3 linked regions of the Homo sapiens genome follow. The protein of the gene in region 1 interacts with the protein of each later gene in a pairwise test. Each region holds a gene or a part of one and is shown in the gene's direction. Other genes may lie near its edges.

Evidence for each region. The genes of interacting proteins can lie anywhere in the genome.
Region 2: the proteins of NKAP (region 1) and NOS1AP interact in binary tests that used the Homo sapiens proteins (3 or more experiments, as listed by UniProt).
Region 3: the proteins of NKAP (region 1) and DHX8 interact in binary tests that used the Homo sapiens proteins (3 or more experiments, as listed by UniProt).

Annotation. Positions count from the first base shown.
Region 1 is NC_000023.11:119,926,739-119,933,764, reverse strand, and holds part of NKAP (NF-kappa-B-activating protein), read left to right. Parts: intron 1-1,548; coding exon 1,549-1,658; intron 1,659-1,753; coding exon 1,754-1,829; intron 1,830-3,599; coding exon 3,600-3,749; intron 3,750-7,026. UniProt on the Homo sapiens protein: Acts as a transcriptional repressor. Plays a role as a transcriptional corepressor of the Notch-mediated signaling required for T-cell development. Also involved in the TNF and IL-1 induced NF-kappa-B activation.
Region 2 is NC_000001.11:162,359,691-162,366,716, forward strand, and holds part of NOS1AP (carboxyl-terminal PDZ ligand of neuronal nitric oxide synthase protein), read left to right. Parts: intron 1-3,292; exon of another isoform or gene 3,293-5,659; coding exon of another isoform or gene 5,660-5,713; coding exon 5,714-5,879; intron 5,880-7,026. UniProt on the Homo sapiens protein: Adapter protein involved in neuronal nitric-oxide (NO) synthesis regulation via its association with nNOS/NOS1. The complex formed with NOS1 and synapsins is necessary for specific NO and synapsin functions at a presynaptic level.
Region 3 is NC_000017.11:43,479,650-43,487,000, forward strand, and holds the start of DHX8 (ATP-dependent RNA helicase DHX8), read left to right. Parts: upstream 1-4,325; 5' UTR 4,326-4,388; coding exon 4,389-4,536; intron 4,537-6,748; exon of another isoform or gene 6,749-6,809; intron 6,810-7,351.

The DNA of each region.
Region 1 (7,026 bases):
GGAGGATCGCTTGAGCCCAGGAGTTCAATACCAGCCTGGGCAACATAGCGAGATCCTGTCTCTATATTTAAAAAAAAAACAAAAACCCATAACCAGAATGCTATTATTGTGCCTAAAACATTTAATAATAATTCCTCTATTCTCAGCAGTTTTTTCTGTAGTTTATTCCAATCAGGATCCAAATAATGTCCCTAAATTGCAGTGACCGTATTCTTATGGTATTCTTTGGCATGTTCTGTCCTCTGTATTTCCAATAGATTAATAGGTCTAGAGGCCTGAGAAGGCTCAGATTTGAGTTGGGGCAAGAATACTTCATAAGTGGTGCTGTTTACTGTCAGGAGGCAAATAATGTCTGGTTGTCACTTTTTGTCATATTAACAGCCATTGATGGTCATTATCTCGATCCATTATTTCATTAGGGGTTGTAAAATGGTGATAGTCTAATCCTGGCTTTATCCTTCATTTATTAGGCAGAATGATTCTATAAGAGAAACTTACCCTCATCAACTATTTAGATACCCTGAAATATAGTTTATATTGTAAGAGCAGGATAATTGCTTGATTTTTTTTGTTTTAATGACTTTTCAAATAATGAATTGGATTTTTAAAAAGTATTATTAACCCAAGGATTTAAACATATTTGACATATTTTAATCCATTACACATAAAATTATTCATAATGTTCAAATTGTTGGGACTTTTTAGGCTGTTTTATTTCTGTTGTCTTTCTACAACATCAGAACTGTATTTCATTGTTCCCTTTAGTGAATTTTTTTTTTTTTGAGACCGTGTCTCACCCTGTCACCCAGGCTGGAATGCAGTGGCACGATCACAGCTCACTACAACCTCAACCTTCCAGGATCAAGCCATCCTCCCACCTCTGCCCCCACTTTCCCCATACCTGGGACTACAGGCGTGTGCCACCACACCTGGCTAATTTTTGTATTTTTTGTAGAGACACGGTTTCGTCATGTTGCCCAGGGCTAGTTTCTAACCCCTGGGCTCAAGTGACCCACCCGCCTCAGTCTTCCAATGTGCTGGGATTACAGGGGTGAAACACTACACCCAGCCTCCTTTAGTGATAATTTTTATAGCAAAAGATGATTTGGTTAAATAAGTTAGAATACTTTTTAAAAAAATTCTTAAGAGGCAGTGTCTCGCTCTGTTGCCCAGACTGGAGTGCAGTGGGCTAATCATAGCTCATTGCAGCCTCGAACTCCTGGGCTCAAGTGATCCTCCCGCCTCAGCCTCCTGAATAGCTTAGACTACAGATGTGTGCCATCACACCCAGCTACTTTTTTTTTTTTTTAATAGAGACGGGGTCTTGCTCTGTTTCCCAGGTTCAGTTAGAAGCAGATTTTTTTAAGTAAAATTATCTTGTAAGTTTGAATAAGCTGGGAATTCAGATCATTTTATTGTCACCTTTCTTTGCCTTGAAAAATTAAGATGTATAGTCACCAGTTCAAAATTTAAAAAGAAAAGAAAAATTAAGATGCCCTCTAACATAGGAAGATTAAGTGAATTTGTATCAAATTAAAATCCCTATAGGAAGAAATATAAGAAAAAGAGGTCTAAGAAGAGCAGAAAAGAGTCCAGTGATTCAAGCTCTAAAGAATCCCAAGAAGAGTTTCTGGAAAATCCCTGGAAGGATCGAACAAGTAGGTTCTTCTGATAGACTAACTCAGAACAGATGAAACATTAAAGTAACCAATTAGTCAGAATGTGAATGTGTTTCTTAATATCTTTCATGCAGAGGCTGAAGAACCATCAGATTTAATTGGCCCAGAGGCTCCAAAAACACTTACCTCTCAAGATGATAAACCTTTGAAGTAAGCAGCAGTGTGTTTATAATATCTAAAGTACCTACCAAAAAGTCTGGTTCTAACTTACCTTGCCAAGCTTATCTGACTCTATTCCCTTATTTCTACTCCAGGTTCCAGCTGAGCTGGACTACTAAATATTCCCTGGGCTTAATGTGCACTTTGCAACTTTTATGCCATGTTCAGCTTATTTCTTCATCCAGTATGCCTTCCCTTCTTTTCCCTGCCCTCTGTTTTCTTCCCTATCGCCAGTTTCTTCCTGTTAAAATCCTTACTATCCTTCGAAGCCCTTTTCAAAAGGAGATGCATATGCTGATTCCCAATACTTCCCCTCCACAAGTAGGTGTGATTTCTGTTTCTCTTTGATCCTCACAGAATTTTTTATTCCTTTTTTTCTCTTTTTTCTTTTTTTACCAGCAGAATTTTTTTTTCTTTTTGTGAGACGGAGTCTCGCTCTGTTGCCCAGGCTGGAGTTTAGTGGCGTGATCTTGGCTCACTGCAACCTCTGCCTCCCAGGTTCAAGCGATTCTCCTGCCTCAGCCTCCTGAGTAACTGGGATTACAGGCACGCGCCACCACACTCAGCTAATTTTTTTTTGTATTTTCAGTAGAGATACGGTTTTACCATGTTGGTCAGGCTGGTCTCAAATTCCTGACCTCATGATCCACCTGCCTCAGCCTCCCAAAGTGCTGGGATTACAGGCGTGAGCCACCGCACCTGGTCTAGAATTTTTTTTTTGTTTGTTTTGTTTTGTTTTTTTGAGATGGAGTCTCACTCTGTCTCCCAGGCTGAAGCACAGTGGTGTGATTGAGTTTCACTCTGTTGCCCAGGCTGGAGTGCAGTGGCATGATCTTGGCTCACTGCAACCTCCACCTCCCAGATTCAAGTGATTCTCCTGCCTCAGCCTCCCAAGTAGCCAGGATTACAGGCGCCTGCCGCCACGCCCGGACTAATTTTTGTATTTTTAGTAGAGCTGGGGTTTCGCCATGTTGGCCAGTATGGTCTCGAACTCCTGATCTCAAGTGATCTGCCCGCCTCAACCTCCAAAAATGCTGAGATTACAGGCGTCAGCCACTGCACCCAGCCTACTTTGTTTTTTTTTTTTGTTTTGTTTTGTTTTGTTTTTTGAGACAAAGCCTTACTCTGTCGCCCAGGCTGGAGTGCAGTGACACGATCTCGGCTCACTGCAACCTCTGCCTCCCAGGTTCAAGTGATTCTCCTGCCTCAGCCTCCTGAGTAGCTGGGACTACAAGCATGCACCACCATGCCCGGCTAATTTTGTATTTTTAGTAGAGACGGGGTTTCGCTATGTTGGCCAGGCTGCTCTCAAGCTCCTGATCTCAGGTGATCCTCCCGCCTCAGCCTCCCAAAGTGTTCAGATTGTAGGCGTGAGCCACTGTGCCTGGCATACTTTGGATTTTTTAAGGGAAAAAGGGAAAGGGAATCAGCTGGAGCCAGAACCAGTAATGACAATACCTGTAGGGATAAATTAATCCATAATTGTAAACTGTGAATCTATACTCACAGCAGTTCTTTTCTTTCAAAATATTTCTGCATTTCTGGGTTAGTTGTATAGGTCATAGTGCAATGCAATGTTTAATACACTAATTAGGATAAAGCAATTCACATTGAGCTTCCTAGCACACTACTGCTGAGCACTGTTATTCCTACTCTTGTTTGAGAGAAAATGTGGGGATTTTTGGTGCTCTCTTTAGATTATAAGCTTTTAATATTAAGATGATTTAATGGACCTTTTCTGAATTCTGAATTACTTTGTAGCTATGGCCATGCTCTGTTACCTGGTGAAGGTGCAGCTATGGCTGAATATGTAAAAGCTGGAAAACGTATCCCACGAAGAGGTGAAATTGGCTTGACAAGTGAAGAAATTGCATCATTTGAATGCTCAGGTTATGTAATGAGTGGTAGCAGGTATGTTGTTGGCATTAAGCTCAGTTTCCATGATTAGATCTTTTTCTTCTTTTTTACTACCAGAATTATATTTTGGTAATTGATTTTCATTAAGTGACTGTTTCTTATGAAAAGTAGAGTATAAATATTGGTTTGATATTAGTGTTGTTAGTATAACATGGTTTTCTGCAATTCCAAGTATATATGCAACTCAGCCTCAAACTCAGCTATATCTCTGACTTCAAAGAATCAATCTTCCTAATGTCCTTTCCTAGTTGGTATTTGCTTACAGATATTTTATCCACTGGAGGATATAGTTAAATTCAGCTATTTATCACTGCCCCATGAGGAATGTGGCAGTTAGGAAAATATTTTCACAAGACAGTGTTTCCTGGTTACAAGTTTGTCTTCAGTTTTTTATGGACCCAGATTTCTGAGACTGAATAACAGAAAAAGATGATAAAAGACATTGGTCAGCTGAGAATATATCCTGGCTAATAAATAAATGAATAAATAAATAAATTTTAAAAAGACACTGGATTCAGCATGGGAAATGAATATAAAATTAGGAAAGAGAAAAGTTCCAGGAAGAACCAGGAGAATGAGCAAATAGGGCAGCAGTACTTAGATCAAATTGAATTTTGGATTCTTTAAAACTTGATAAACTTTTTTTTTAAGTAGATAACTATTTTTAAATGACACTGAAGGCAAATATTTGCAGAAACCCTGAAGCACCTCCAGAATCTTGTAATACTGAGGACCAATATTTGAAGCATTGCATTGGAGGACCCACACAGTAAGGCAAGAAAAAGAAATTAGAGACACAAGGATTGGAAAGGAAGGCTGGGCACGGTGGCTCATGCCTGTAATCCCAGCACTTTGGGAGGCCAAGGCAGGCAGATCACTTGAGTCCAGGAGTTCAAGACTAGCCTGGGCAACATGGCGAAACCCTTCTCTACTAAAAACACAAAAATTAGCCAGACGTGGTGGTACACACCTGTAATCCCAGCTACTCAGGAGGCTGAAGCAGGAGAATCGCATGAACCCAGGAGGCGGAGGTTGCAATGAGCCAAGATCACACCACTGCATGCCAGCCTGGAGAGCAAAACTCAGCCTGAAAAAACAGTAATAATAATAATAAGGATTGGAAAGGGCGATATAACAATGTCATTTTTTAGCCAGGCGTGGTGGCTCACGCCTGTAATCCCAGCACTTTGGGAGGCATAGTTGGGTGGATCACCTGAGGTCAGGAGTTCAAGACCAGCCTGGCCAACATGGTGAAACCCTGTCTTTACCAAAAATACAAAAATTAGCTGGGCATGGTGGCGGACACCTGTAGTCCCAGCTCCTCAGGAGGCTGAGGCAGGAGAATCACCTGAATCCAGGAGGAGGTTACAGTGAGCCAAGATCGTGCCATTGCACTCCAGCCTGGGTGACAAGAGTGAAACTCCGTCTTAAAAAAAAAATGTCATTTTTTTGTGAATGACATGGTGAATGATTTGATTGTTTACATAGAAAATCCCAAAGAATCTCCAGATAAATTATAAATGAGAGGAGGGTTTAACAACTGGTTGGATATAAGGTTAGTACACAAAAATCCATTGCATTTCTATTTACCAGCAACAGACAACTAGAAAATGTAACTAAATAAGAAGAAAACATTTGTAATAGTATCAGAGAATATGAAGGACTTCAGAATAAATCTTAACAAAAGATGCCCAGGGCTCTGTGAGGAAAACTATAAAACATTATTAAGAGATTGTGTATTCAATACAGTTCCAATAAAAATGAACTGCATTTCTATTTACTAACAACAGAAACCTAGAACCTTGAACGTTTATAACAGTGTCAGAATATGAGAGACTTAAGAATAAATCTTAACAAAAGATGCCCAAGGTTCTATGGGGAAAAATGTAAGACATTAAGAGTCCATATCTTCAATATAGTTCCAATCAAAATCACAACACAGTTGTTTATGAGACTTATTAAGCTGGTTCTAAAATTTATATATTACACTAAAAGGACAAGAATAGCCAGGTCACTTCTGAAGAAGAAGAGCAAGAAGGTAAGATTAAAGAAAACTTAAATAGCTGGAGAGATACCAGGTTCACGGATAGGAAGGCAATATTGTAAAGTTGTCATTTCTTCCCAAATTGATCTTTATATTCAATACAGTCCCAATCAAAATCAGAACACAGTTTTTCATGAAACTTAATAAGCCAGTTCTAAAATTTATATACTAGACTAAAAGGACAAGAATAGCCAAGTCACTCCTGAAAAAGAAGAGCAGGAAGGTAAGATTTCCCCTACAAATAGGAGGACTTATTATGAAGCTTACAGCACTTTAGAAAGCATAGGAGAACAACTGAATTGTTCAGTGGAATAAAATTCAGGCCGGGCGTGGTGGCTCATGCCTGTAATCCCAGCACTTTGGGAGGCTGAGGCGGGTGGATCACCTGAGGTCAGGAGTTCAAGACCAGCCTGGCCAACATGGTGAAACCCCATCTCTACCAAAAATACAAAAATTAGCTGGGCGTGGTGGCTAGTGCCTGTAGTCCCAGCTACTTGGGAGGCTGAGGCAGGAGAATCGCTTGAACCCATGAGGTGGAGGTTGTAGTGAGCTGAGACCTCGCCATTGTACTCTAGTCTGGGCAACAAGAGCAAAACACTATCTCAAAAAAAAATAAAATAAAATTCAGAGCCCAAAGATAACCATACACGTATGGAACTTCAGTGTATGAAAGAGATAGCATGTCAGATCAATGGGGAAAGAAAGAACTATTCAGTACATGAAATAGGAGGCTGAGGCAGGAGAATCGGTTGAACCTGGGAGGCGGAGGTTGCAATAAGCCGAGATTATGCCACTGCACTCCAGCCTGGGTGACAGAGGGAGACTTGGAAGTTAAATCCACTGATAAAAACTGCTGTTCAATTACAGATTTAGACTTGGTTCTTTTTTTTTTTTTTTTTTTTTTGAGACCTAGTTTCACTCTTGTCTCCCAGGCTGGAGTACAGTGGCGCAATCTCAGCTCACTGCAACCTCCACCTCCTGGGTTCAAATGATTCTCCTGCCTCAGCCTCCCAAGTAGCTGGGATTACGGGTGCCCACCACCACACCCAGCTAATTTTTGTATTTTTAGCAGAGACGAGGTTTCACCACGTTGGCCAGGCTGGTCTTAAACTCCTGACCTCAGGTGACCTGCCTGCCTCAGCCTCCAAAAGTGCTGAGATTACAGGCGTGAGCCACCATGCCCAGCCTAGACTTGGTTCTTTTGGTTTTATGGTAAAGTAGAACCTT
Region 2 (7,026 bases), on another chromosome or scaffold:
CAAGTATAGCAAGCTTGGTTTCTCTACGCGGGGGGGGGCTGATTTCAGTTTCCAGCACGAGGTCAGCTCTTACTTGTTCTGTCAGACTCTATTGCCACCAAACTGCAAGGCTTCTGTCTGTCTTTATTAAACTACCAGCAGTCCCCAGAATTCCAGTGAGTAAAACTATGACCTCAGCCTTTCAGGTGGGAATAGTTTCCTTCTCTCGGAGAGCATCCAAATCCTCCTATGTTGTTCCTGGATAAAAATCTAAGGATAAAGACAGTTTCTTGCAGACAAGTGTACCCTTGATGTCACTTGTTGCACTATTTATGTCGTCCCCCCCCCACCACCCCCATTTCTTCCCACAGACTAGTCTAGTTCTGCTGTTGCCATGGGGACCAGGCTTAGGTTTCCTTCACAGTGTCCTGATTTGGTCTAAGACCGCAAGACCTCTCCCAGCCTCACCCTAAATTGGTTCTGAGCTGGTCTCAAAGGGGCCCGCCCTGACCTTAAAGGTATATGGGCAAAGGTGGTATTCAACCAACTCTTAAGTATTTCCGGGTTAGACCTCAGTGGGTAAGTAGTGAATACCCAAGTCCCTCTGACCGCTCTTCCGACCCAGCATGAGGCTTGCCTGGCTGCACTAGCTTCCTGCTTTTAGGTGGACCAGAAGTTCAAGGGTGTGAATGAGAGTATAGCTAAGCCTCGAAGCGAAGCTGGGATGTAGCTGGCACCTGCATGGCCATGGGCTGGGCCGACATAGTCTCAGAACTGATCTGGGCACTGTGGCTGATTGGCAAGTGTTAAGTAGGCCAGGTCTATTCACAGTTTGCCAATTCCCAGCCTTTTTCCTGAGGAAAGTGTTAGTACAGTTCAGTATTGCTATTTAAAGATTTCTCCTCTACCTGCTGCCACTTCTGTTTGTTCAGGAACAAGGAATTGGTTATTTATGCTTCGCAATCATGTATGCTGTAGTTAGAGGAACAGTGCTAACAAAACTCCGCATCCCCACCCCAGGCCCTCTATTTAGCATATGTCCCTGTGGCTTCTCCCAGTCCCCAGCACGCTGGCATGCACTGCCCAAGTCCCTGCCATGTGCATGCTGAGACAGCGGCGCCTGCCTCTGCTTCTGTGTCCAGTGTGTGGTGGGGCAAATTGCTCTGGTTCTCTCCACTGCCATTTCCATGTGCCTGCTACTCCCTAACTTCAGCCTGGCCCTGCCCTCACTTCTGATGGAGGAGCTGGAGTCCAGGCAAGTAAGCTGGAGAGTGAGGGCGCCAATGGTCTGGTGTGGCTGGGTGGGTTGAGGGTGGGTTTCAGAGTTTGGGAAAGCAGTGTAGAGCTGGAGGGTGCAGGGCTGAACTTTTGTGTGTCATGATGAGGCCAGAGTGCAGAGCTGGACATCTGAGCCCTGGCACTCGGGACGTGGCCGTAGTGTCACATCACTCTGTGCCACATCACTGACTTAGTATGTAAGTACAACATTCATTGCCAAAGACAACACAGTTCTGCAAAGGAGACACTAATTTGTACCTTTCCAGAAAGAAATATGGTCTACTTTTACAAAAGGGGCTTAATTCTTTGAAAGAAAAGCATGCTAAATACAAAAAAAAAATCCCATCTGGTGGGGAGGAGGTGGTGCTCTCTGCCCCTGTTGTATGAATGGGGAAACAAAGCACAGAGGGCTGTAGCAGACTGCCCAAACCAAGGTTTCACGTAACGCTGCCTCGTTTCAGTGCTTCAAGTTCGAGCCTACATAGTTATAAAATGCTGCACCTCAAAGTTAAAAGAAGTCCAGGCTATTTTGTCTCAGTATGGCCTGGTTTGGGTTCTCCTGCAGCACAGCCTGCCACAGCTTGAGGTTTGAGCCTTATGCCCAGTACCACTTTTGACAGCTGCAGAAGCAGAGGGCTCATTAGTGCTGGCTCAGGCAGTAGCAGCAGTGGGTGCTCACATATTCACAGGACTTGAAAATACCTGAAATAGTGTAACTGGGTTTACAGAGGTAAAACTCTTATTTAATCTGGTACAAGGAGCATTTTCTCATGGCACTTGGTGCCAATGGATCTGCGATGGGAAGCATTTGAGTCAAAGGTCTTCTTCTAGGTATTGCTGGTACTCCACCATTGAACTTGGGTACCTGCAAAAAAAGCTTTCAATTTTTTTCCTGGCTTCTGTAAGAGGGGACTTTTCCTTCACCCTCAATTCTAATTCTGACTTCACAATGGGGAACTGAGAGTTTTCTTCAATGAGCCATTAACAAATTGCCTCCAGTACTGACCACAATGTCAACCTGGATGTAGAATTATCAACTGTCTCAGCCTCAAGCCAGTCCTCTCGGTTGACAGATGGAGAAACTGAGGTCCAGAGAGAAGTGAGTTGTCTACAACTGCCTAGGGAGTACCCAACAGACAAGCACTCCAGCTCCTGGTCTGGTGCATTCAAATGGCCTGTCCTGTTGGGATGTTCAGACTGGAAAGCAGGAAACTGACTCTGGGCTGGGCATGGTGGCTCACACCTGTAGTCCCAGCACTTTGGGAGGCCGAGGCAGGTGGATCACTTGAGGTCAGGAGTTTGAGACCAGCCCGGCCAACATGGGGAAACCCCGTCTCTACTAAAAATACAAAAATTAGCTAGGTGTGGTGGCGGGCGCCAGTAATTCCAGCTGTTTGGGAGGATGAGGCAGGAGAATCGCTTGAACCCAGGAGGGAGAGGTTGCAGTGAGCTGAGATCATTCCACTGCACTCCAGCCTGGGTGACAGAGTGAGTCTCAAAAAAAAAAAAAAAAGAAGAAAAAAGAAAGAAAGAAAAGAAAAGAAAAGAAACTGACTCTGCAGTATGTGTGCAGAGAGCCCTCAATAAGTGCCAGTTAGAGGTATGCAGGATTCTCTACTTTCTTTGTTTATATCTGCTGAAAGACTTTGTTCCACATTTCTCTCTGGTTGGTTTGGTTCCAAAGAAAATGGAAGATGAATAATTTAGTAATTTTATTTGCTCAGTAGGTTCCTTTCGATGCCACTCTTTGTTGGGATAAGTAACGGTACTCATAAGTGCAAGATTAAGCTTACCCTTCTCTGAGGCTTATCTGTGGGCTTCCCATAGCAGTTGTCCTGTTCCTTAGAACCAAATAGATTTGGGGGACCCCCAGCTGAAATTTCTCCATGCCTCCCTTTCCAAAGAGGAGAAAACCTTAATAGCCACCCACCATCTGACATCCAGATTACAATATTATTGACATTTCTTTCCCTGTTGAGTGGATATAGGAAGAAACAAACTCAGTTTCTTCCTGCTATACTGTCACAACATACTTCTATGACCAAATGTATGGGGCTTTTTCCCACACACCAAGCAAGCAAGCAGTTCTGCAGAGGGCACACAGTGTCCTCTAACTCAGTTTGATTCTGATACTATCTACCTGGAAACAGCATCAGATCCCACAGTTTGAGGGCTCAATCCCACAAGACTTTCCCCCATTTCAGACACCAATCACAAGTAATAGTTTGTCACCTACACCTCTGACCAAGTGGCTATAAATTGGTGTTCCCACTACCCTCTCCTTGGACTCAACTGATTTGCTAGAGCAACTGACAGAACTCAGGAAAACACCTACATTTACTGGTTTATTTTAAAGGATATTATAAGGGATACCAATGAACACCAGATGGAAGAGATGCATAGGGCAGGGTCTGTGGGAAGGGTGGCAGAGCTCCCATGCCCTCCCAACGTGCACCACCCTCCAGGAACCTCTAAATGTTCAGCTGCCCGGCAGCTCCCCACACCCAGTCCTTTTGAGTTTTTAATGGAGGCTTTATTATGTAGGCATGATTGATTACATCATTGGCCACTGGTGATTAGTTTAACTTTTAGCCCCTCATCTCCTGGAGGTTGGGGCGTGGGACTGAAAAATCCTATCCTCTAATCATACCTTGGTCTGTCCTGTGAGCAGCCCCCATCCCGAAGCTTCCAGGGGTTCCCCAACCACTAATCATCTAATAAGCATACAAAAAACACTCTTACCACTCTGGAGATCTCAAGGGTTTGGGGAGCTATATGTCAGGAAACAGGGATGAAGACCAAACATGTATTTCACTGTATCACACCTGTTCTCACCCCTCCCCAGATCTTCTCTCAATTAATATGAGACAAAAAAATGAGTCTGACTTCTTGACCAAAATATCAGTTCTGTCCTTAGCAGCTTTATGGAGGACAGATTTAGTTTAAATTCCTTAGGCATTATGCCCCTGTGGCTCCACTCAATCAGAAATAGGGTCAACGGCAAGGTCAGGGCCTCCAATCTGGGCAAGAGGGAGGCAGCCACGGTATCCACAAGTGTAATTCTCTGAGTGCTGGTTGCTGGGAGGGGCACACCCTGGGCCAGCAAGTCACTTGGCCAAGGGTGGCCAACTGTGAGGTAGCACTGCCCTTTACTCCCTAAAAAAATGTGAATCTCTTTGGAGCAAACTCCTCTTCAGAAATTTGAGCACTTGTTTTCTGAGCAAGGGAATCAGCTAATGCTTTTGACTCCCCATCCATCTTCCTGCATCCTCGTCCCACCTCTCCTGCCCCCACTCACCTGGCTCTGTCTTTACCCACACCATGGTTTTGGTACAAGAACACCCTTTTCCCCATAAGCTACATTGGTCCAGGCCATAAAAATTCATTAGTTCCCTTTCTTCAGGGGCCTTCTGAAATGCTCCCTGGAGAACTCTTTATTCACTTCTTTGCACAAGAATCACATATGTGTGAACACTGGTATTGGCCTTCTAACTCAGTTTCTTCAAACCAGGGTCCTGGTCTGGTTGCCCCTGTCTCCTCCCACTGAGTTTTATCTCCACATAAGTATTGCTCACCAAGAACAGAGCTGTTGACACCACTGGGCCTCAAGCATGCTGAATGCATTGCTGCCAACTGCTCTGCCTTAAGAAGGTTGGAAACTGATGAGGGTGCCACAAATTGTTCACCTCAGCCCTTCTGGGCTGGTTGGAGGAGGCCCTCTCATGAATCAGTCAGCAAATGTTTGACCCCTACCAGGTGGTCCTGGTAATATGTGGTATGAATCATGGTCCTAGATGTCTGCCATAGCAAATAAAAAAGGAAGACAGGGAAAGAAGCTGTCGCCTACAGAGTGGCTTGATGACAGCTGCCTCACTAATTTAAAAAGCCATGTGTAGTGCTTCCTATTTCTCACTATGTTTGGGTGAGTGGGAGAGGGAGAAAGATTATATGGGCTTCGTTGTGACACTGTTCTTAGCCAGTGGGTCAATAGATGAGTTTTGGTTTTGTTTTTTAGAAGACAGGATGAGAAGAGAGTGCCCCCTTCCACCTCCAACATGGCATGCCATGCTAGGTGCTGAAGGAGTTCTCTAAGCAGGGATGGAGCACCGTGCGTGTGTGTGTGTATATGTGCACGTGTGTGTGTACGTGTGTGTGTGTGGCAGGTCTAGAGGGTCGATGGCTCTTTCCTGCCTCTTGCCCTTGGTATGGGTACCTTAGTGATGCATCATGGCCCTCCCTTAGGACACACAGCTTCGCAGTGCCAGTGAACCCACTCCTTTTGGCTCCTCCTCTGGAATGATAAGCCCAGATGCCCATGCTGCCCGTGAAGGGCTTCTTCTTGAACTGAATGTGGAGGGCATCTCTGGTCCCGGCCATCTGCCAGTGACTCTCATGTGCATTCATGTCCCTCTCTTCTCTCTGTCCTGTCTTCTCTGCCGCTGCCTCTTCTCTGCAGGTACACTTGCTGAAGGACCAGTTGGCTGCTGAGGCTGCGGCGCGGCTGGAGGCCCAGGCTCGCGTGCATCAGCTTTTGCTGCAGAACAAGGACATGCTCCAGCACATCTCCCTGCTGGTCAAGCAGGTGCAAGAGCTGGAACTGAAGCTGTCAGGACAGAACGCCAGTAAGCCAGTGCCCTGCCCAGCCCTGCTTCCTCTGTGAAGGCTCTGGAAAGAGTGTCACTTTCCTTAAGTTTTTGGTGGTGCTTTCTTGGACCCCTGACCTACCCCTATATTCCAGCAGAAAACATAGGCAGCTTTGTTTTCCCATTAGTATACTTAATGAATTACAGAATCACATGCCCAAAGGAGATCTCGGGTGCCTTCTAATCCAGGCCCAGGGCTGGACTTTGAATGTCCCCGGAGTCACTGCTATGTGCTCATCCAGTCTCTATTTGATAGGGGCTCAGGTACTCTGTGTTCTAGGGCAGCCCATTTCTTTCTCAGAGAGCTTTTGCAATCAACAAACAGTATACTTGGCACCTATTGGGTGTCATGGTCTCTGTGAGCTCTGTGGGAGACAGCAGATTGTTTCTTAGTTTACTACTCTGCACTATGTATTTCAAGACTCTGTCACACAGAAAAAGCTGGGAGCAGTATATCTGTTCAGTGGATAAGGCAGTGGAATCTGGCTGCACTGCTCTGCTGGGCAATAGCAGAGGTTGCCTGGCCCCTGCTTGAGAAGCTGTCTCTACACTCAGTACCCCTGGGCTGGGCTGGGCAGCTGTAGATCGCAACACATTTTCACGCCTTCCTCTTGAGCCTTTCCGTGGGTTGTTTGCATGCTCAGAGTGTGTGTGGGCTGTGGACCAGCAAATAGCCATTGATCACATATTGTGCCAGAAACTGTGATAGAATTTTTTGCCTGTGAGCTCATTTAATCCCTGTAGTTCTGCTGCAGAAAAATGGGATGCCATTTTACAGATGAGGTAACAGACTCAGGGAGGTTAAGTAACTAGCTCAAGGTTATAGGCCTAGCAAGGAGCAGAGCCAAGATTCAAACCTAGATCTGATTGCAAAATTTTGTTCCAACTATACCAGTGGTTCCCCCAAACCATCCCATGAGCTCTTTTAAAAATGCGTCTTTCCTACTGAGATCCTACATCGTTCTGTCTAGGGCTGGTCTGGGAGCCTGTATTTTTAAAGTAGCCCAGAGGTGTGGATTGGAAACCAGTGCCCTTCACCACTCTGGAAGCCTCTCTGGATTTTCCAGATTGTTCATTGAAACTCTGCTCTATCCTAATTAATGCTTATTTACATGATTGTACTAAA
Region 3 (7,351 bases), on another chromosome or scaffold:
CTGGGCAACAGAGCAAGACACCATCTCAAAAAAAAAAAAAAAAAAAAAAAAAAAAAAGAAAAGAAAAAAGAAAAAAAGAAAAAAGATGAAAAACTGATAAATAAATATGAAAAAATTCCTTGCCATTTCCACAGAAGGTGGAGAGGCCGAGATGGGGGAATACCATTTTCTTGACAAGTTCATATCATAATGGTGTCTGGGTGCCTGGCTTTGTGTTTGTTTTTGCCTGACATTTTGAAGAGTCTTAAAATGCAAGAGAAATGGGAAACTTGACTATACCAAAAAAAAAATCTGCTTAGGAAGAACATTTTTTTTTTTTTTTTTTTGCCTAATACTATAAAGCCTTGGAGAATTTAGAATCTAAAGCATCTGTTATTGCTGATGGCAGGTTGATGGCCTAAAAAGAGAGGGAACTGTAGGTCAGGAATGTTTTGCGCAAAAATGAGGCTGCGCTTGGGTATTAGAAAATAAGGCAAACAAATAACAGATTGCAACAGGATAAACTGCCCTGTGAAGTAGACTTGCCCTCCAACCCCAATCTGCCTGCCCTCAGATGACGGTAAACAGACCAGCTTTTTTTTTTTTTTTTCTGTCTTCCAATCACCTGCCCTCATGTTTAGGCAGCAGAGATCTAAGTTATAAACACAGCTCTGCCAGGAGACCCCTTGGCTGAGAATGGCATTCAGAGTATTCTAGTTCTTCCTTGATGTTTTTCCACTTTCAGACCTCCTATCCTTTTTAGAACCTGCCACAGTGCCTGGTCACAAGGTTGAAGTTTAATACAAATTTAATAAGTTGGTCCAAATTTGGAGATGAATTCTGGGGAAAAGTCAAACAGTGAAAAATAAGGAATTTTACTTTCTCTGGGGGCTCCCAGGCTCTCTGGTTGGGTCAGGGCCCAAGTGGAGCAGGGAAGAAGGGGCCACTCTTTCTGAAGTCTCCCTGCATGAATGACAGTAACAGTTGAGTGGTAGTCATATGCTTAGAAGCAAACCATTCTGATTTTGCCTCCTAGAGCAGAGATGTCTCCCCTAAGATCCATTTTACCCCAGCAGAAAAGGCCAGGGTTGTCTGGGTTGTGGCAACACTGTTTTGACAGAAAGCCCTATGATTTTTCTCACAAACTTCCCTAAGGATGCTGTCTTTCAGCTACACGTACTTAGATAATTTCTTCTCCCTTACCAACTCAACCTGATGTTGCTAAGAGGTTCAGTACTTTCTCTCTGCTTTCTACCTCATCCCAACCCCCAAGTTCTTTCCCAAATTCCAGCAGCTGGGACCAGTCTCTGGGACAGAGCAGAAATAACATGGAAATCGGGGGTAGGGTTAAACACATCTATAAGTCTAGGAACAGGCAGAAAAGTAACATCCCTGTTACTACAAGTTTGGTATCAGGAAATAATTTCTTATCCATCATGAGTGGTGATATGGGTAGTATGAGCATAAGTTATATGTAGAGGTAAATTATTTACTGGGCTATTAAAGGGCCACATGGAGGCTGTCCAAGGAAAGTCATACAATAATAATGGAAATTTATTATTATTATTTTATTTTTTGAAACAGAGTATCACTGTCGCCCAGGCTAGAGTACATTGGCGTGATCTTGGCTCACTGCAACCTCCGCCTCCTGGGTTCAAGCAATTCTCCTGACTCAGCCTCCCGAATAGCTGGGACTACAAGTGTATGCCACCACGCCCGACTAATTTTTGTAGTTTTAGTAGAGTCGGGGTTTCACCATGTTGGCCGGGCTGGTCTCGAACTCCTGACCTCAGGCGATCTGCCTGCTTCAGCCTCCCAAAGTGCTGGGATTACAGGTGTGAGCCACTGCACCCGACCTAATAATGAAAATTAATTATATCTGATATTATGTTGAAAAATATTCTATCCAGAGGACAGTTCGGAAACATTTACTTTTGCACTGCGTTCGATTCACGGTCTCTTATGGGGAGGAAGAGTAGGAGGATTCCATGTGCATCTGTGTTTGGGCTGTCAAGTTATCTGTATCTACATAACTATTTGTTTTCCTTTGGCTTCAAAGAAATTTTTGGTGTTGCAAGAAATATGTATATTGCAGAAAAACTGTCACTTCTTAAAATGTGCAGTTAATGGCATATCTAAATAAAATGTAATGTTTTGCTGTTAATATTTACTATTGATATATATGTTCAATAATTCCCAAACAATTCTAACATTTAGTATTTATTAATTCTAGTATTTATTGCTACTACTGCTGCTACATGTTATGGTTCCATAGCCCCTATTCTGACAGAGCTTTGAAAACAAAACAAACTCCCTATCTGTTCCTCCTTCCGGTTAAATATTGGAGGAAAGCAGAATAGTAATATTAATTTTTAAAGAGAAAGAAGCACAGAGAATGAACATCAGATAGAATAAGCCCTTGAAATCGTAACTCCAAGCTGGCAAATTGAGCACATTGGATCAAGTGCAGAGTTTTCCATTCTATTCATGGGGAGAAAGAGGAAGCGAAATGGGGAGGGGTAGGAAGAACTCAGAGGGTTTAGTAGTGATTCCTTAGGAACCTGGAAACCTGGAGCTTCTGGAGACAGTGAGAACAATGGCTGGGTTTTTCTCTGCCTGTCATTTTTCAGTCCATGATGAGATGTTGAAGAAACAGAGTCCAAAGGTACACCAGTGTAAAAATGTTGCCAAAGTGAAAAGTGGGAGACTGATTTCCTCCTTCCGATTGATTGGAGAGCCATTCACTTTAGGGTGCTTCTGTTTCCTTACTCATCACACAGAGCACTGGAGTGTGGGAAAAATCCCCATCCCACATTAAGGTTGCCACAAAGGTAAAAAAGACCTGAAGCAGAAGTTGGGAGACCTGAGCTTATGACCTTGGACTTACAGCACAGCTGATATTTGGGGGAATAAGGTTTGTTGTTGTTTTTGTGTGTGTGTTTTGTTTGTTTGAGACGGAGTCTCACTCTGTCGCACAGGCTAGAGTGCAGTGGCGAGATCTCAGCTCACTGCAACATCCACCTCCCAGGTTCAAGCAATTCTCCCGCCTCAGCCTCCCTAGTAGCTGGGACTACAGGCACATACCATCACGCCCAGCTAATTTTTGTATTTTTAGTACAGACGAGGTTTCACCATGTTGGCCAGAGTGGTCTTGAACTCCTGACCTCAAGTGATCCGCCCGTCTCGGCCTCCCAAAGTGCTGGGATTACAGGGGTGAGCCACAGTGCCCAGCCCCTGGGGGAATAAGTTCTGAGAGGACACAGGAAAACTGGGGATTGAAAAGCAGGTTTTCACAAGAGTGGAGGCAGCTGGCTCTGTGGGTTCCCAGACTAAGGGGATCTGTGCTTGACAGACCAGAGGCCAGTTCTGTGACCATCATCTCAGCCTTGAATTTTTTTTTTTTTTTTTTTGAGACAAAGTCTCACTCTGTCGCCCATGCTGGAGTGTAGTGGTGTGAACTCAGGTCACTCCAACCTCTGCCTCCTGGGTTCAAGCGATTCTTGTGCCTCAGCCTCCCGAGTAGCTGGGACTACAGGCGCCCACCACCACCACGCCCGGCTAAGTTTTCTATTTTTAGTAGAGATGGAGTTTCGCCACGTTGGCCAGGCTGGTCTGGAACTCCTGACCTCAAGTGATCCACCAGCCTCGGCCTCCCAAAGTGCTGGCATTACAGGCGTGAGCCACTGCACCCGGCCTAGCCTTGTGATATTAACAGTAACTGTCATTTGCGGTGTGCCTACTCTGTGTCACACTCCTTGCAGTTATTCCATTTAGGGTAGAGCAACATTATTCTAGTTTACAGATGAGAAAACTAAGGCCCCAGAGATTGATTTGCCCAAGCAGCCAGCTGGCAGTGGAAGTGCCAGTTTCTTCGTGTGTAAAACAAGAGAAGGCAATCTACTGCCTACTGGCTTGTCAAGGGTCACTTGAGATCGGACGACAGGAACCACAAAGAAGTGAGGCCGGGAATTTGCGGATCCACAGTAAAGCAAGTTTGTCTTTTTCCAGACGTGCATTAAGATTCCTTTTTCAAGTGTTCTAAAGCGCAGGCGCAGGCTGTTTTGCGGTTGCCTCCCGGCGCCTCTTGTGCAGGCCGGGGTCGCCCTCTGCCGACCCAGGGCGGGAGCGCGCTGAGTGAACGTTTCCAGGCCTGAGGGCGGGCGGAGATTTTTCTCGCCTGTAGAGGGCGCAGATCGGCGTGCAGAGTAACCCACTCTAGTTGTCCCTTCCTTAAGCACTTCCTGTTTGATCTCTATGATCCATCCTGTTGGGACTTGATTCGTTCCTCAAATTTTCAATTTACCGTAAACAAAGGGGACGCGCGCTGACCCGGAAGTGAAAGCTGGAACCCGGCCGGAGTAGCTCTGAGCGCCGGCTGTGAGGAAGGAGGTTCTGGGCAAGCTATAGCCATGGCTGTGGCTGTAGCCATGGCGGGAGCCTTAATCGGGTCGGAGCCAGGCCCCGCGGAAGAACTTGCCAAACTCGAGTACCTGTCTTTGGTGTCAAAGGTTTGCACTGAGCTGGACAATCACTTGGGGATCAACGACAAGGACCTTGGTGAGCTCGGGGAGGTCCCTGGGACCTCAGTTTGGGATTGAGGGAAGCGGAAGGAGGAAGGAGGAAGGAGAAAGGTGGTTGATGGACCGAAAGTATGTTCGTGTGAATCTGTCTCTCTCTGTCGCAGACACCGGTGCCCAGGGTACACGCTGCCGTGGCCTCGGCTTGAGAGCCCTCGAGAAACTTTAGAAACTTTCCCAGAGCTGTCAGTGAAGCCCGGGGCGGTCATCTCTGCTTGATTGTTTTTTGTTTGTTTTTTCAGCCTCAATTAAACATGTTTAACAACAACAGCAGCAGATGCTGCGATGACGACGATGATGGCTGACGTTTATTGGGTGCTCACTATGTGCTAGATGCGATGCTCAGCTCTTTATTGACATTATTTTATTTGGTCTTCACGCCACTCTGTGACATAGTAGTTAGCGTCTGTGCTTTTAACTGTGTTCTTTGACCGTTCATCCTGTACTCTTTTTTGAGGCAGGGCCTCGCTCTGTTTCCCGGGCTGGAGTGCAGTGGCACGATCTCGGCTCACTGCAGCCTCCACCTCCTGGGCTCAAGCAGTCCTCCCACCTCAGCCTCCCGAGTAGCTGGGACTACAGGCGGGCGCCACCAAGCTCGACTCATTTTTAAATTTTTTGTAGAGACGGGGGTCTCACTGTATTGCCCAGGCTGGTCTCGAACTTCTGGGCTCAAGCAGTCCTCTTCCCTCGGCCTCCCAAAGTGTTGGGATTACAGGCGTGAGCCATTGCGTCCTGTACTATGTCTTAAACACCAGTCACTAGATGTTTTGGGGCAAACTACATCTGGGGAGCCGAAACTGAGGAATTAGAAAAGGCTAGGGTCCTAAAGCTAAAGCCATAGACAGATGGAGCCTTTATGAAGGTACAGAGGATGGATGGGATCAAGGGCAACCAATGGATGGATTGACCTTTGGTACGTACAGCAAGGCTTCTTCAGTTGTAACAGGAGCGAGGACAGAGAATACAGTTGCAGATTCAGATGAGTTTAGAGATTGGTGGTGGGAAGATGAGTGAGAGAGTTCCAGCCCACTCTTCAGTTTCCTAAATGAAGATAAAGTCATCAACCGGAGGGATGGAAGGGAAGGGGCAGGTGACAGGAGGGGTTAGGGAAGTTAGACGAGTGACCTTTGGTAAGATTCATAGTTTCTCTGAAGCTGTTTTTCTCATCTGTGAAGTGGGACGATGTCTTCACAGGGTCACCATATAGCATTTAGGAAGATGCCCTGCAGCCAGTATATTTTAGTTTACTTTTTTCTCTTGCCTCCCAGCCAAGATGTGTCTGTCCTATATAACTTTTCCCGCAGGATTCTTCTCTTTTAGTTGATAATGAGGTGATAATTTCGTCGGTTTTGCTATCTCGTTAATATGTTTCCTTTATTCAGCAAATATTGAGCTGGGGGCTAGGCATACCACAGAGAACAAGACAGATTTCTGCTTTCAGGGAGCTTACCTTTCTCTCTGTTTTCATTTTAACTCCTAATACCTTGGCCTTTTAGAAGAAACAAAAAAGTTATTGACATTAACCCCCAGTGTTTAATTGTTTTGATGTTAACTTCATTTGTGTACAAAAATAGAGCGAAGTATAAACTTCATAATCTTTTAGTTTATTTATAGCTAAAGATCTCAATTAATTTGCAGAAAACCCACAAATATGCTTTTTCTGTTACATACAGAATTATAAAACCAGTAACATTAAAAGTACTAACATTGGCTGGGTTTGGTGGCTCACGCCTGTAATCCCAGCACTTTGGAAGGCCAAGACAGGCCGATCCCCTGAGGTCAGGAGTTTGAGACCAGCCTGGCCAACATGGCGAAACGCCATTTCTACTAAAAAAAAAAAATACAAAAATTAGCTGGCCATGGTGACTGGTGCTATGCAGGAGGCTGAGGCAGGAGAATCGCTTGAACTCAGGAGACGGAGGTTTCAGTGAGCTGAAATCACATCACTGCACTCCAGCCTGGACGAAAAGAGCAAGACTTTATTTCAAAAAAAAAAAAAAAAAGTACTAATATTGGTTTAATGCAATAGACAGTGTCTTTTGTTGAAACTAAATTGGCAGAGTTGGGTTTAATAACAGAAAGGCATATATTTGCTTCTTTTATGTTTTGTTTGCTGACTTGATTCTTTTGCTTTTGACCCTGATGGATGACTTATTAATTTATGTATTTAATTTTTGGGAGAGTTGAGATAGTAGAGTTTCCGATGAAAACTGGAAAACCTGCTAGACAAATTCTAAAAGAACTGTAATACTGGATTATCATTTAAATTAGTGTTATTTTTACTGTTTTCACCAATGAATTTTTTTAAACTATAAATTAATTTTTTATAATGGATTCAGTTAATTTAACAATTCCCCTGTATAATTGTGAAAATTAAAAATACTGATTAATGGGACCAGGCGCAGTGGCTCACACATGTAATCCCAGCACTTTGGGAGGCCAAGGCGGGTGGATCACGAGGTCAGGAGTTCGAGACCAGCCTGACCAACATGGTGAAACCCTGTCTTACTAAAAATACAAAAATTAGCAGGGCGTGGTGGTGCACGCCTGTAATCCTAGCTACTCAGGAGGCTGAGGCAGGAGAATCACTTGAACCTGGGATGGGGAGGTTGCAGTGAGAGGATCGTGCCACTGCCCTCCAGCCTTAGTGACAGAGCAAGACTCCGTCTCAAAAAAAAAAAAAAAAAAGATTACTGATGGCTGGCAGTGAGAATGTGCTTCAGACTGCTTTGGGAGGGGCTCTTTTGAGCATGACATGCCTAGCACCATGGGACTTAGTTCTCCCTCCACATTTC